Regions from separate parts of the Homo sapiens genome. Here region 2 is linked to region 1. Evidence: fine-mapped QTL for protein levels in blood plasma. A gene starts in region 1. The other region holds a variant in brackets. All regions are shown on one strand. Distances are between the middles of the regions. Region 1 holds the start of FSTL4 (follistatin like 4). Region 2 overlaps FSTL4 (follistatin like 4).

Region 1 (5,000 bases):
TTCTCACATGACTTCCCAGTCTGGCTTCTAATGGGTATTTCTAGGCACTGTTTGACCAGCCTAGTGGGGACTCCCAAGGGTAAGCTGACCCACAGTTAGTGATGCAGATACTTTTGGTTGGATCTGGAGAAAGTGCCTTGCTTCCTCCTGATTCCCATGGCTATGTGTCATCTCTGAGTATCCTGATATGCAGGTGTAATCTGAAATGTCCTAAGAGACACACATCATTTGGCAGTAGTTTTTCATTATATTGTTGTGTTTTTGGTAAGGATTAGAAATAGAAAAAAGATTTTAAACCAGCAACGTAAAAAAATATTTGGGTTGCTTAAACTTTTTGATCTTGTAAAAGTATATTAATAATGTTTTTATGTGTGTCTCTGGCTGAACCACTCACCAAAAACAGAGTGGGGCTGGGGGGCAGTAACTGGAATTTATGTTTCCTTTTAGCTCCCCTATTCCAAGCTTATTGAATTACATGAAGTTCAAAACTTAACCATTATTTCCCCTAAGAATCCTAGTTGGCTATTGAGAATCAGTATGCTTGCAAGTTCTGAAACAGGGTTTCAGGCAAATTTTGAAATTCTCAGTGTGAAATCTAGCCTATTTTCCAATTTGGGGTGTACTATTAAACAAAAAATTACACTGAGAGGTAAAAGCACAGAGCAATTCAAAGAGGTGTCAAGGTTACTGGCATCTGATGCTGCTTCCCTGGAGCCTTGTTTTATTTTGTCATTCACACTTCACCTTTCTCATTCCGAGGTGACTTTTAATTTCACTCTTATTTTATGCACAGTAGTTAAACAGCTCACTTCAGATGTTAGCATTCTCTCTAAGGAATATTCCATACATCTGGTTTGCAGCAACTACCTTCTTCTCCTTCTTTGGGAAGCGTGTAGAAGTTCAGTGCCTGTTCACTGCATTAAACAGAGCTATTTCTGATCTTGGTCAACCTATAGACCCTGATTTACATATGACCTTGAGTTACTAAAAAACAAAAAATACACAAAGTCCTGCTTTGATTATGTAATAAGGCCACTAGGTTGACTCAGGGACTTTGTGATCAGAGCTGAGAATAGAAATCTGCTTTTCCAAATACCTCATGTCTTAGAGGAGAGCCGAATCCAGCCTCTAAGCCATGGTGTACGTTCCTGACCACAGACTTAGAATTACATTTCAGAGGGAGGCACAGCACATTTCCAAACTTCCCTGCTTCCTTTTATACTCATTTTCTCTTTTCTGTTTCCCAAGATGAAAAGTGCCATCCCTTCCCCAGTCCTGCCATGGAGAATCTGGCCCCTAGCCAGCCCCAGAAGTTCAGTCATGGTGGCCTTGGCAAAGATTCATAGTCAAATCTGAGAGAGGATCACACTGGCTAGGGCCCAGGGTCACTGAGGATGTAGTAGCCTTTATCCTTCTGAGTAAAAATCATGGTATCCACATGGGAAGTCAACCAGGTTTTGTCCAACCCCTCATTTTACAAGTGGGGAAACTGATACCTACAGTAGAGATACGATTGGCTCTGCATTACATAGCTTGGCAGTGATAGAGGGAGAGCTGGACCCCAGACCAAAACTGTGTGATGCCAAGACCGCGCTGGCCCATTCACTGCTGTATCTCTAGCAACTATTAATAGCACAGTGCCTGCTGCATTGGAGGGGTTCAGCGGCAGGAAAATCTGTGGAAGGAAAAAACAAACGTAATATCTCTTTCTTCAGGTCAGCCTTCCATTATTCTTCCCCTTTTCCTTATATTTAACTAACTTCATCCTCAGAAAAATCCCCTCTGTCACCTCCCCCCGGCCAGGAGAGATTACAGAGGCATGGACAGAACACTGTTCACCTAAGCCAGGAAGGCCCCTGGTGCCCACGCAGCCAGAGCAGGAGGCAGGCCCTCAGAAAGTCTCCTGGCCATCAGCCTGGCCTGGGTAGGGGCTCCCTCCTAAGTTTCCTGCCAGACTGAGGCTACGTATGACCATTTATGGGCCCCTAGTTGTTACAAAGGTGTTTCCAGTTCATTCGGGAAGGAAGACTGATCTCAAAAGCTGCTGATGTTAAAGAGGGATTCAGAAAAGTTTGGGAGCCCCAGGCTTGGGGATGGGATCAGGATGGGGAAATATCCTGTTCTAAGGGAGAAGGGACCCTCTGGGCCCAGCTAGGTCAGGTAGGCAAATGTCACTTGGGATTGCCCCTGTATGCCCTGAATGTCTTAAGATTCTGTAGTTGGAAGAGGGAAGATTCAGAAAAGAGAAAACCTTTGCTGTTTCCCAGGTTGTTGGGTCTCAACGGCGGGGGATTTCACCCACTTTGTCCCCAGGGACAGCTCTCCTGCTGTGGTGTACCGGCCCGCCTGGACTCCACGAGCAATGGCCGCGGATTCAGAGACCCCCTGTGCGCCTGGAGAGCACAGCTTTGGGGAACCTGGCCCGGAAAGGAGCCTGGAGGAGAGCAGAGGTGAAGAGGGGCTGTCACTTGCCGAGCTCCACGCTAGCCAGAGGCAGGAGCGCTACGCTGGCCCTCCTCCCTCCGGGCCCTAGATGGCCCCAGCGCTCCGGAGTCATCGCGCCCCGCGTGCGCGCCCGCCTGCTCCGCGCACCTGCCGTGGCCGCCGCGCGGGTCTGACCGGCTGGCGGGCGGGCGGCGCGCACAGGTGGCGGCGATTGGGCAGGCGGGGCCCAGAGGGTGACGTCACGGGCTCCGGTCCCGGCGGCAGAAATAGGGCAGCCGCGGCGGCGGTGGCACAGCAGCGGGCAGCGGCGGCTCAGGGAGCTGGAGCCTCAACAGCCTCCAGCGAGCCCGGGACCCGCCGACAGCCCGAGAAACCAGCCGAAGGACGCGGGGCGGGGTCGCCGCCGCCGCCACGGGGTGCTCCCTCCCTCCCGCCCAAGTCCGGCCACCTGGTCTTCCCCTCGGCCCCGGCCGTCTCAGGTACGCGGGCGCAGCTCCCAGCGGGCGCGGGGAGGGTGCCATGTCGCTGGCGCCGCCACCAGCCGGTCCCGCTGCACCCCACTGGGGTCCTGGCGCCCGCGGCCCCGCATCTTGCTGCAGGGCCCGGCGCGGGCGCTTGCTTGTCCTTACTGCCCGCGCCGGGAAAGCCAAGTTTGCCCGCGGGGAAGGGACCGCTGGGCCAGGGCTCGGCAGGGCTACCCCGGCCAAGGCCAGGACTCGAGGAGAGGCTGGGACGCCGAGGCTCGTGGCCGGGGTCTACGGTGGGGACCGGAGTGACCCGGTTGGCACGCGGGGCGCCACGCAGAAGCGCTCGGGCCGAGCCCGCAGCTCGCGCCCGGCTCCGAAATCCTGCAGGCGCCGTTCTTGGGTTCAGGACCCCGAGCGGCCCCGGCGGAGCCAGGCGAGCGCGGCCCCTCGGCCCGGGCCCGGTGCCCTTGGCTCCGGGTTGGGGCGCCGGGCAGGCATTCTCAGCACCTCCTCCCCGCGGCTTTGCGGGGAAACTTGCGTCTCCTCGCTGCAGCCCAAAGGGCCCGCTGCGCTTCGCCTGGCCCTGGCTTCCCCGGGGTCCGCCGCATGTGAGGCTGGGGAGGAAGGAATCAGGGCACGACCCGACTCCAGGCAGCCTGCGGCGCTGCTTGTGCGTAGCCGGCCGCGGTCCAGAGTGAGCGGCCCGGGGTACCCGCTTGAACGTGTCTAGGGAGCAGTGTGTTGGGGGCGTTCAGCGTTCGGGCTGGGGGCTTGGTCCTAAGAGAGCTTGCACTGTGGATGATCTCCGCCCTCTTTGCGCCCGCAAAACAAAGACGAGTTCTGAGTTTCAGGAGGGACCTGGACGAGGCAGGCACAGCACTCTGCTTTCGGCGCCTGTCGCCTCGAGTTTGGGGACGAGCTGACGCTAGTCTTTGGGGCTCCCTGCAGCCGACAAAGCGGCGCCAACCCCAGGCCTGCCACCTGAGGACTTTGTGCCCGCAACTCTTGCGGGAGCGGAAAGCCGCCGAGGCAGTGGGGTTTCTTGTTTTCCAGAGCGCGGCGAGCCTCCGCGCGGCGCGGCAAGTGCACTAGGAGTGCGCGGGTCAGCGGGGCGGGCCCGGCGAGGTCGGTGTCGCGGCTCGAGAGCGGGTGCCGGGGCGCTGTCCAGCAGCCCTCGCTCGCGGCCGCGGGCCGCCGACACTGATGAATGGCGCGGCCACAGCCCGCCGCTCCCCTCTAGGTGTCGCTTCCGCCGAGCTTTCCTCCAGTGAAAAACAGCGCCGGCAGCTTGGTCTGTTACCTTCGTAAATTTGTTGCAAGCCTGTGCACCAGGAATTGTACTAGATGGGGCCCCCGAGATACAAACATCCGTCCAGGTTCTCTGGGCCAAACGTAAACAGAATTTCAATAGGTGGTGAAGTAACTGCCAGCCAAAATGTTCACCGGGAATGGGCCTGTGTCACAATCTGTGAGGGGAAAAGACGGATCAGTGAGCGACTAGGACTCTTCTTGAAAGTCCTAAGTTATTTTCCTACTGCCAAATTTAGGGGAAACCAGCGATGCTTTTTAATAGTGTCTTCTTAATCCTGGGAGCCAGGCGCCAGTTTCTGTGCCTGCCCCTCTGGCCCCCAGGACAGACTCTGGGTCTGGTTGGCGGGGGGTCCACCTGGGAAGGGAATGGTCGGAGGTGTGAGTGATGCAGCTTCTGAGACTCCAGAGCCACAGCAACTCTCAGGCAGGAGCTCAAGCCGGACATACGAGCAGATGCCCTACAGGGCACGTGTCTGCTTCCCATCTTAGCGTTGTGAGAAGGAGGCACTGCAGCATCACTAGACCATTTCTGCCATACTCTGCTAAATGTTCGCTTTTTCCCTCCCATCCTAGGAAAAAAAGGCACCACCCTCTCCAAAGACTTCAGACTGAGCCAAAGTTCACATAAGAAAATAGTCCACTTTGATGTAATGTATTTAAATTGCTCGTTAGAGTTGTCCTAGTGCTTTTTTCTCTCTTAGACTTTTATGATCATCCTCAATTTTTGTTGATTCTAGGAAAGCTCTTTTTCTTCTGGAAAAGGCCAGCTTGTTTTTC
Region 2 (5,511 bases), 290 kb after region 1:
ACAATTATTGAGGGAACTAGATTAATGAGGTGTCATAACAACTTAGCCGGATCTGCGACTGACCTTTCTCATGGAGAACGGGCTTGATAAATGTAGTTCATTACCAAGTTCTGACATGAAAATAGGATCACACTCTGGGCTCCTCGGCAAGCTGATCAATATTTTATCTGCCAAAGCAGGCCTGGTCTGGGAGCAGGAGGAGCCCCACGCATGTGCTGGCAAGGAGCCTGAGGCCAGGGCCAGGGGCTGGCCAGGCCAGCCCTGTGGCATGGAGGGCACCCAGGCTGGCAGGAAGGTGGCTGAGCCCTTCACAGAGCCTGCCAATGACGCTGTCAGTGTCAGGCTTACCAGGACATGCAGCCTCTCTCCCCAAGAAGCCCCAGATGGGGCATGTGCACTGGCGGTCAGGAGGGAGGGAGAGGATCAGGACATCTTCTGTCTTCTGTTTAGCCATGAGCACTGATTTAGTTGCCAACCTGTCCCAGGCCCCACAGTAAAGGGGACAAAGACAAATGAGCCATACCCCTCCCTTGGGGCTTTGAGCCCATCTCACCAAGAGAAGACCCCAGGCCTCGCCAACCACTTGCTAAGTCCTCACATTTCCTTGTATGCTATGACCCTGGAAGGCAGTAAGAAGCTATTATTATCCCCATGTGAAGATAGGGAATAGGAGTAGGAAGGGCAGGGGAGTGAATGCCTTTCCTAAGGTCTCACAGCTGAAGTCAGGTGGTCTCCTGATCCTCCACCCAGTGTTCTGTCTGACCTTGTGGTGACTGTCATTAGCAGTGTTAATATCAGGTAGACACGGCAGCCTAAGATGAAGTCTGTGTCCCCCTGAAGACCTTAGACAAGGTTGTTATAGGGTGAGCCCATCACCCTGGCTCCAGCTTCATGAAAATGCCCTGGAGCCACAGGACTCTGGTCCTCTCATTCAACAAGCATTTCATACTGTAATGCTGCATGGGGAGCTGTCCACTTCAACTCCTGCCTGCTCAGAACATGTAATCCCATTAAGGGGACATAGCAGATGCTGAAAGCCGCCCATCCAGCTTCCCTCAGTCAACCCCAGAGGTGATGTGCAGCTTGGATGGACGATTCCCCATAACACTTGCCAAGAGCATCCAATCCCAGGCACCTGCAGCTTCAGCCTGAGGACATTTTCCGGTCTCAGGCGTGGACTCAGTCCTCATTTGGGAGGTCCAGAACTGCTAGCTGGAGGTGGTGAATTCCTCCAAGAGCAACCTCAGCTAATAGGGATGGAAGTCAGTAGAAAAATATCCTGGCTCCCTCCCACCTCAGTGAAGCAATTCTGCGGTGTGTTCTACACAGTCCCTCTGAGGACCCCATGGGATTGAACCCCCATTGCCCACGGCGGCAACCCACTCATGAGTGAACCCTTTGTTGGCTTTTCTCCCTTCCCAGTCTACTTCCTGTTCCTTCCAGCACTTCTTGGGATCATCTTCAAATATGCTGCTTGCCCCTAGATCCTCATCTCAGGGACTGCTTTGGGGGAGCCCAAACTAAGGCTGGGGCAAGCCTCACTCAGAAAGGATTTCATAGCAGGCAGAAAGGAAAGCTGAGGGAGAAGGCAGTCCCGTGTGGGTGTGTGTGGGTGTGTGGGTGTGGGTGTGTGTGGGGGTGTGTGTGTGTGTGGGTGTGTGGGTGTGGGTGGGTGTGGGTGGGTGTGGGGGTGTGTGTGTGTGTGGGTGTGTGTGTGTAAGTGGACAAGCTTCCTACAGACGAGGTGGATTGGGCCTGAAGACAGGAAGGGGGTGGGGCAGCATGAGAAAGCGCAGCTGTGTTCAGAGCATAGGGAATTTCCAGCTATGGAGGGGGCTTCCCTGAAATTCTCCAAACCTCACTGTAAGGCTTGACTTAGCCAAGGTTACCACAAAGGCAAAGACAAAATCCCCTTATTTAGAACAACACAAAGTTCTCTTTACCTGGAAACCAGCAAGACTCAGAGAAAACACTGAAATGACTTTCCAAACATGTGGGCAGAAACTTGTGCAGTCCAAATCACGGCGGTCCTGCCCACTCATGAAGCAGGTCCCCTGCGGGTCCCAACCTGGCAGCCCCTGCTGAGCCTCATTCAAGGCATGGACGTCAAGGTTATATGCAAGCATCCCACCTTTTCTCTGGAAGAGTCATGCCTCCGGATTAATCAATGCTGAAGTTCAACTGTATTCTGAGTCTCCCCATCCCAGGCTGAGTTAGAGAGGCCCTGGCAATGGGATCCGGGCCCCAGCTCAGGGCTCCTTATGGCATTCTCTCGAACCATTCTCTCGAACTCCTGACCTCAGGTAATCCACCTGCCTCGGCCTCCCAAAGTGCTAGGATTATAGGCGTGAGCCACCGCGCCCGGCCTGCCACTATCATTCTCAACATCATCTTGACCATCACCCACAGGGGCACCAGGGAGGAGTGGGGTGGTCCCCA[A/G]GCCTCTGCCACACACCCCAGGGACCTTCCCTCCGAAGGAGTAAAGTATCCTGTGGATCAAGGCTAAGGCTAAGACTGGACCCTGCCCCTGTCCGGAGAGATCTGATTCCCTCCCTACCTGGGAGCCAGGCCCAACACACACAGTGTCAGGGCACGGAGAGTGATGAAGGTAAGGGGTGCCAGCTTACATCAGGTGATGTTTAAGCAGAGGCCAAGATGAATACACCAGGTGGAGATTTGGGTGAATAGCACTCCAGCCAGGGGGATAGTCAATGCCAGGCCCCTGGGCAGGAGCATGCCCAGTGATCAGTGCTGCTGAAGTCCCCTTGGTCCCCCCATACCCCCCACCTCTCTTGTAGTCACCTGTGTGGAATTGCTGGGCAGGTGGGCAGGGCTGACTGGGGTGAAGATAAGAAAGACATGAACCTTGGGTGTTGACACTTTCTTGCCCAAAATGATTGGAATTTTTTTTTTTTTTTTTTTTTGAGACGGAGTCTCGCTCTGTCACCCAGGCTGGAGTGCAGTGGCGTGATCTCGGCTCACTGCAAGCTGTGCCTCCCGGGTTCATACCATTCTCCTGCCTCAGCCTCCCGAGTAGCTGGGACCACAGGCGCCCGCCACCATGCCTGGCTAATTTTTTGTATTTTTGGTAGAGACGGGGTTTCACCGTGTTAGCCAGGATGGTCTCAATCTCCTGACCTCGTGATCCGCCCGCCTCGGCCTCCCAAAGTGCTGGGATTACAGGCGTGAGCCACCACGCCCAGCCAATGATTGGAATTTGAGAAGAATAGGAGGAAGATCAGAAAACAGGTCTCGGAGCCCGCACAGCAGACGAGGGCTGGACTACGTGAAAGAGCTCATTTCAATAATGGGCTCAGTGTCACTCATGGAGAGGGCCCAGCTTCACATCTGGCCAGCAGTGTGTTGACAGCACCTGCATCTGGGAGGTGGATTTCGGGATGATTTATTTTCTTTTTCTTTATTTTTATTTGCACTTTCCAAGTGGTTCTCTGATGGGCATGTATTTCTTCTAGAATTAGACAAATGTTTGAAGCTGGAAGAGGGGAGGGAGCCTTTAGCTGAAGACATGTCCGGTGGTGTCCAAAATGCCCAGTGCTTCACACAGCTAAGTCACTCCTATCTGACCCCACAGTGAAACCAGCAGGGGGCAGGAATGTAAAAATAAAACTGGAATTTGGTAACCTATGACTTTGACACACCTTGCTAGGAAAATATCTATCCTGGAAGCCAAGGCCAGCTGTGAAGGAGGAAATCTATCCAGGGAGACTGAGCTGGAGGCTGCAGCTTTGGGGCATCTGCCTCTGGGGGCTGGAAGAAGGCAAGGAAGGAAGTTTTCCCTCCCCCACTCCACCTCAAGCCCTGTGGAATTCGGATGACAAAGGCAGGGAGTGAAGGCAGGGAGCCACCAAGAGGGCAGCCCTTGGAGATGAAGGCTCAAAAGCCTTCCCAAAAAGCGAGTTTGGACTTTGGGATCTCGAGTGATCATCTGCACAGAAGCAGAGCTCTGAGCATCAGGCTGCCTTTCCTCCAGGGTCCATGGCCCTTCCCCAGTGCTGTCGGGCACCAGAGGAGCTCAGTAATTTCGGACAAATGACTTCATGATTTAAGTTTGGGCAAAGTTCTCTCTTGCAACTCATTAAAGCACAGTTGCTCCTGGGGTAAAGAAGGATTTAAGATTCTGTTCCTGGAATCCCTTGGTTCATCTCAGGACCCCAGTGGCAAGCTTGGCCCAGGCATGGAGTGCCCTCAGTAAAGGGAAGAAATGACGAAGGAAGTTTTGAACAGCATGATGTACGGTGCCACACACTTCCCCAAGGCCTTGGAGGCTCTGCCTGGGTTGTCCCACTGCCCTCTCCTGCCTGTCTTGTTTCACTCTCCACCTGACTCAGCCCCTCTAGCCCAGCCACACCAGCTTTCACCAGTCTCCAGACGTGCCCCACCATGGCTCCTGCACGCGCAGTCCTGCTCCTGGCCTGCTCTTCCCTCTGCTTCCTCCCACAACTCCTCCTCCTACAGGTCTCATCCTGAACATCCCTCCCTTGGCCTCCCACCACAGGCACCCACAGTGCCCAGGACTGGAGGCTGCCCAGCATCGGGCACACAGTATGTAAATAAATACTGGTAAAAGGATGGGAGTGGCCTGGACAGTGTGGGCCCTAGCAGGGGGTGGGACCGTGGGCTCAGGGAGCTGATGCTGGAGACCTGGAGGGCCCACCCCTTTCCCCCAGATGATTGACTTCTAGACCTGCACATACCTTCCTGACCAGAAGGTGTCTGTTGGGCAGTTGCCAGGGTGAAGCAGCCAGAAGTCTGCGCTCACAGGCAGCTGTGAGGATGTGAGGTGGGGCCGAGCCTGGGGAGGATGCTGCAGCACCCCACTTCCATCCCAGCAAGACCCACCTGGATGGTTTCCCCCACCTGCCAGTGTTGGAGGTGTTGTCCAGCTGCAGACCCCTGCTCACAGGGGGACGCCAGTCCGTGTAGCTCTACAGACTTGAGAAATGGGTTTGCCAGCTGGTGACCCCAAGAACTCCCAGGGCGCTCTCCATGCTTAGGCCAGCCTGGCCACTGGGGTCCTGAGACGAAATAAGAGGCTCCCAGAAAGGAATCTTGCCCAGGGCAGCAGGCAGCTCAGAAGTGGTTTACGCCCCACCAAGGTCCAGGAGGAAGGTTGGGGGGATCTGCAAGGATGGGGCATCCTGCCCTTTTGACCCAGCCTGTCCTCACCTTCAGGTGGCCCTGCTGCAGCATGTTCTTCGGAGCCTGATTGTCCACCGGTGTTTCTGAGTACAGCCTCTTCCTGACACCATATCCACCTGCTGTGTACATCAATTTTTCAGTATCTGGGTATAAATGCCCCCCACTCCAGGAAGTCCTGGGGGCTGCAGAAATGCTGGCTCCTGCAGACCCTCCACACAGGCACACATCCATCTCCATTTACCCCAGCAGCTGGCCCCACCTCCACTTTCATTCTGTACCCCCACTTCTGGTCTATTTGCCAGGACAAAATTTCAGCCTCTTTCAGGGAGTGAGGAGCTAGACTCAGGCAAA

Evidence for each region. A credible set is the group of variants that fine-mapping cannot tell apart. PIP is the posterior inclusion probability: the model's chance that the variant is causal. Sun 2018 read protein levels with aptamers (SomaScan).
Region 2: its variant is the best candidate, but not a certain one, in a credible set for the plasma level of the FSTL4 protein (Sun 2018, PIP 0.59).

Annotation. Positions count from the first base shown.
Region 1 is chr5:133,610,249-133,615,248 of GRCh38, reverse strand. FSTL4 (follistatin like 4) reads left to right here and starts at 2,708. Exons shown (of 16, transcript NM_015082.2): 1 at 2,708-2,924. RefSeq lists a silencer at 3,977-4,026.
Region 2 is chr5:133,318,420-133,323,930 of GRCh38, reverse strand. All of the region lies in intron 4 of FSTL4 (follistatin like 4), which reads left to right. Among named protein-coding and RNA genes, the nearest start is that of FSTL4-AS1, 65 kb to the right of the region's middle. RefSeq lists enhancers at 3,892-4,408, 4,409-4,926. The variant A/G (reference allele first, on the strand shown) is at 2,440.